2 separate regions of the Homo sapiens genome follow, and region 1 is linked to region 2. Evidence: fine-mapped expression QTL. A gene starts in region 2. The other region holds a variant in brackets. All regions are shown on one strand. Distances are between the middles of the regions.

The links. PIP is the estimated chance that this variant, and not a neighbour inherited with it, causes the effect.
Region 1: its variant is fine-mapped to the expression of CEMIP2 in whole blood (INTERVAL, PIP 0.99).

What each region holds. Positions count from the first base shown.
Region 1 is chr9:71,682,579-71,685,078 of GRCh38, reverse strand. CEMIP2 (cell migration inducing hyaluronidase 2) reads left to right here. Exons shown (of 24, transcript NM_013390.3): 24 at 1-1,713. Among named protein-coding and RNA genes, the nearest start is that of CEMIP2, 85 kb to the left of the region's middle. The variant T/C (reference allele first, on the strand shown) is at 1,275.
Region 2 is chr9:71,766,837-71,769,846 of GRCh38, reverse strand. It overlaps CEMIP2 (cell migration inducing hyaluronidase 2), which reads left to right and starts at 1,334. Exons shown (of 24, transcript NM_013390.3): 1 at 1,334-1,490. RefSeq lists enhancers at 313-994, 995-1,676 and a silencer at 570-1,239.

The DNA.
Region 1 (2,500 bases), 85 kb after region 2:
GGGGAGAAAAGAAAGCGTTTGAAATTATTGCTTGGATACCAGCTTCATGCACCTTCTAGTTGTACAAAATGTTAAAGACGTTGTTTGTATTTGTAAGGCTGGTGTATTCAGAGAGCAGATCTCTTATTCCTCACTTTCCACCCCCGTATTTTGTAATGACCATGAGCAATGTTTTTACTTTTTGTATAATGGGGTGGGGTGGAGTGGGGGCTTCTGAGAGTCAGCCTGAGGTCTTTAGAGGACCAGCTATTGTAGCACCTTGGATACTTGAAGTTTAATGCTCAGTTGGGTCGGGTGGCAGTTGACTTGGTGGCTGGCATGTTCAGCAGTGCCTGGGGCCCTGTTTCTGGGCAGCCTTTGAGGATTTTCTATGATATTGAATGACAGTTTTAAGTGGCAACTCAGGCCCAGCTCATGCCCTTTTTTGCCTGGACATGTGCTATTTTTATTCACTTATATATCAATTACTTGTAAGGGTTAAACTTTCAAACAGGAAGTATATTGGGACAAAAGGGCTCTTGGGGATTAGATATCCCTTTAATCTGTGACCATTGGGCAAAAAATTTTCCTGCAGCAAAAGTCTGAGGCTGTTGGGACCATTTTTGCAGCTTTAATCCTTAGCCTCTTTTGACTGTATATTTGTGTTTAAAATGCAGAGCTCAACTGAATATTTCCTTTTTTGTTTTGTTTTGTTTTGTTTTAAGAAGTAGGTTGTTTTCCTGAACCGTAAACTTGTATCATTTTAACTTGCACAAAGGAAGTCTGTTCTTGGTATTGCTCTTGCACTTGGGTTTTTTGTTATTGTTTTGTGTGGATTTTTTAAAGCTTTTCTGTTCACCCTCCTGCCAGGAAAATCCCAGAAAGCTTAATGATACCCCAAAATGATTACACCCAGGGAGGAAAAAAAGGAGCGCTTTCTAGGGTCAGAATCGTGGAGAGAATACTCAGAAATGAACCTCTTTAAAGCCTTGCAGGAATGAGTCACTCTTACTTAATGAAATGTTAAAGCCAATTAAAAAGCATGCTGTGATGCCCAGCTTCCCTTTCCACAGGGTGCATGCGTCTCCTGCTGGTGAATCACATGCGGCAAGAGGCAACTGGCTCCACAGCCTGGGATGCTGCCGTACCAAGAGGAAAGAAGCAGCAAAATGCCTTTACGTTGTTCTAAACCCCCGACGCATAAAGTGTAGAGGAGGGATGGCCAAGGGTGGGTGGTAGAAAGTGTGTTCAGGCTGACACTGGCAATGAGTACAGATAATTTCACTTTCCTCTTC[T/C]AGGGGCAAAGGCTGATGGCCTCTACCTTTGTATCCAGGAGAAACTGCAGAGCAGCCCTGTGACTTTACAAAATATGCTACCTCAAAGTGCTACCGATAAACCTTTCTAATTGTAAGTGCCCTTACTAAGGGCACATGTCTTAATCAAAGTTAGTTTTTTGTTTTCTGGTTTGTTTTTTTTTTTTGTATATTGATGAATGAGATCTTACCTATTAAATATATTATTGGATTATGGTTCCTGAAGGTCATTAGAGTGTGTGTGTGTGTGTGTGTGTGTGTGTGTGTTTTATGACTTAAATATCTTTACGTGTGTTTTTTAGAGCTTGGTTCTTTAAAGATTTGGAGAAGATATGTAAATTACCAAGGCACTTGGTTTTTCTGTTTTATATACTAATAATCAGGGCCTAAGTTAAATAAAAATATGTGTGCATGTATTTTATATATGTGTGTATGTGAATTTATTTATTATTTATTTTATTATTATTGTTATTATTTTTGAGATGGAGTCTCGCTCTGTCACCCAGGCTGGAGTGAGGTGATGCAGTCTCAGCTCGCTGCAACCTCCACCTCCCAGGTTCAAGTGATTCTCCTGCCTCAGCCTCCCAAGTAGCTGGGATTACAGGCACCCGCCACCATGCACTGCTAATTTTTGTATTTTTAGTAGAAGTGGGGTTTCACCGTGTTGGCCAGGCTGGTCTTGAACTCCTGACCTCAAGTGATACTCCTGCTTTGGCCTCCCAAAGTGCTAGCATTACAGGCATGAGCCACCGCGCCTGGCCTGTATGTGAATTTATATCTCTATCTATAAATTTAAAATTCCAGATTCCAGCTGTAAAGAAGTTACTGACGGAAGTGAGGAAGACACTTGGTGGACAGAATCCACCAAGTAAATATTGTAAGAGTAAGCTTCAGAAGGGCAGGGACTGTATTCTCCAAGGCAGAGGTTCTCCATCTTGGCTGCACACTGGAATTACCTGAGGAGCTTTAAAAAAAAATATAGAGGCCTGGACTTTACTCCCTTCCCCCCAGATTCAGATTTAATTGGTGTTGGGTGCAGCCTGAGCACTGGAATTTTTTTTAAAGCTCCCTGGATGATTCTAATATGCAGCCAGGTTTCGGAACCACGGCACTAATATAATAGGCCCACTGTTTAACTCCAGTCTGTAATTTTTTTGTGACTAAAACAAAATTGCATTTACCTATTATTTTTATTTGCATTTCCTATA
Region 2 (3,010 bases):
CCTTGTATATTATTCACTGAAAGAGTTTCCTGGAGGGAAAACTTCCAATTCCAATTAAATCGAGGATGACGACGGCCCGGATTTGGCAGTCCTGCAGCTGTCACTAGCTCGGGACCTCGTGCGTCTGAGTGATCCAGCCCGGGCCGCGCCCTCACCCAGAGCCAAGGCTGTGAGAGCAGCTCCAGCGAGGGGGCAGGGTGGCGGCGGCAGGGCTGCTTCAGGGCCGGTGCCGGTGTCCTCAGAGCGGCGTTTTGGCACTGGGGTGGGCCGGGGCGTGGCTTTCGGCGCCACCTCTGCAAGCGGCCGCCACTCCAGAGTGGCGCAGGTAGGGGGCGTGGGAAGACCTAAGTATATTTATTCCGGCCTGCGAGCGGGATGCTGGGGTTGCTCCAAGGGACCAGAAGAGCTGCCCTGTGTCCCAGAGCAGGCTGGTTCTTCTGACAGCGCTGAGAACCTGGCGCTCGCGCCTGGCCAGGTAGGGGCTGTGACTGGACGCTCAGAACATTTGTGGGAGTGTGGAAATCTCTTTACGGGTGATGGGGCTCAAAGTCTGACGCAGCCGAGGGTTGATGGGGTGCAGTCACGCTCAGCCAGGGGACTTTGGGGGCGCAGTGTCAGGCTCAGCCAGGGAGTGACAGGCGCAGTACCAGCCTTATCTGGGGGTGCTGGAGGCACAGGCTCCGGTTCGGCCAGGCGGGTGTGCGCGCCCAGGAAGGGTAGGAGCCTGCAGCCGCAGCGGGGGGCGCTGGCTGGGGCTCTGCCCCGCCGGCAGTGCGCTCGGGCGCTGTTCCAGCGCGCGGCAGCGAGTGGCGCTGAGCCTCCGCTTTCGCAGCTCGCGGGGAGCGGGGCCGGCGGGAGGGGCCGGGCGGGGCCACCGCCTCCTCTGATGGCAGGCTCCTCCTCTCCCTCCGCCTCCCTCGCTCTCCACCGCCCGCCCGCCCGCCCGCCCAATCCACAGTTCCCGGCCCAGCCGAGCCGGGCTGCTTGTCTGGCCGGCGGAGGCTGAGCGCGACCCTAGCAAGCCGCGGCGCCCGCCGACCAGGGACAAGAGCGACTCCTGGGACCCCACTCTGCCCCGCGCCGCCGCCTCCTCCCCTGTTGTCGCGGGGACGCTCAGGCCCGCGCCGCCCGGGCCACGATTCTCCTCCTCTTTCTCCCGGAGGGGAAGGAACGGAGAAAGCCGAGCGGCGGCTCCGGGAGAGAGCGAGCCGAGGCCCCTGCCCCCGAGGCTCGGGGCAGGAGGAGGAGGAGGAGGAGGAGGCGGAGGCGGAGGGAAGTGCGCGTCACTCTCGGGAGGAGAGTATTTCACCTCCAGGCAGAGGCTGCGGCTGCCAGTTGAGTACGAGCGGCAGCTGCGGGCGCCGGCAATCGAGTGGCTTCCTGGCCATGGAGAGGAGATCTGGACCCGAGGACGCCAGGGACTCCTCTCCGTCTCCCTGGACCGCTGTGTAGGCACCTGAGTTAACGGACGCTAAGCGGGGTAGGGGAAGGTAAGAAGCGACTCGGTCACCCGCCCCCCCACCCCGCTCCACCTCGTTTGCTGCCCTCGGGGGCCACTGCGGGGACGCAGACCCGGGTCTCGCCCACCTTTTCTGCTCCCGGCGGCCTGGCCGGCTCCGGCGTTGGGCATTTCTGCCGAAAAGGAAAACGTCCTCCCGCCCTTCCCCCGTGCGCCTCCTTTCCCGGTTTCATCTCTGGATTGGGACTGACCCGACTCCCCAGGAGTCAGTCCTCTCTTCTTAAGAAAGGGTCCTCGGGAACGGTGTCTTGATTTCTTTCTCTCCACTCTCTCTTTTCATTACGTTTACGGGGAAGGGAACAATGGACCTTTCAAAGTCGGTGCGAACAGCCTTAAACTTTCTGGAGAGGGATGGGGTGAGGGGATAAACCCCACAGTAAGCCGATTACAGTGAAAGGTTGATGGAATGTGCTTTGCAGTCCGGGCTTCAGTGCGCGCGCGCTTGTGCGTTTGGGGTCATCTTTGTCTCCTTACAATTCCCCTGGGTTGGTGGGTCCTCCGCCCTCCGCCCCCTGCCTCTCTGTTAGCTGAGGTAAGGTGAGGCTTTAAAATCGTGTACAGCTTCCTTTAAATCTGGGGAATAGCCTTAGCCCTGGACCCTATTCCCAGCTTTTCTCTGCAGAGTTGGGAGATCCTGGTAAAGGAGGGGGGCCCTCTCTGTGAGGACCCAGAGTGCTGCTGTTAATAGCACTAGTGGCTACACCCTTAGCGATAAAACCAAGGTCCTGAATTCCCTGGATGCTCTCTGCTGAGGGTTGATGAGTGTCACCAGACTTCGACCTGGAGCGGAAACAGCTCACTTGAATTCTCCGCAGGTTAGGAAAACAGACTTTGATATATATCTCCTTTTATCAGCAGTTGGGATTAAGGATAGACTGCCTAATAATTTTTAAAACTTTCATTGTGCACATGAGCTACTCACTGCCTTGAGTTCACTCCCCTTGATTCAGTGTGACAGAGTGATGCGCTGCTGCACAGTTGCATGTATTGAGATGTGCTGCTCTTCCCGGTAAAAAGTGAGAAGAATTTAGAGAGAGGGGAAAGGGTAGAGGCTTCACCTGAGCTGAGGGAGGCCTGACTCCCCAGAGCAGCCAGGCAAATCTGTTGGAAATGGCTCAGTGTTAAAAAAACACCTTTAAAATGGTTAGCCTTATCTTTCTTTGGTTGGCTAGAATGGAGCTACTAATGCTTATTTGACCCTTGAAGGACGCTTGTTCTTTTCAGAATTGGTCTGGGTATCATACTGTGGTTGTGGGTCTGATTACCTATACAAAGGGTTCTTTTTAGTTTGCATTTCTGGGCAAAGCAGAAGAATGTGTAGTAGGCATGTCCTCTGCTTAGTAAACATTGGGTAGCACTTTAGAGTGCTTTTCTCTTCACACCGAAATGACTTCCCCCAGCTTCTGTGTACCTGCATTAGAGGATCAGTTTGGGCGGAACTGGAAATCTGTCTTCTGGCTTTCTGTTCAGTCCTCCTGACGCTGTTTTTTT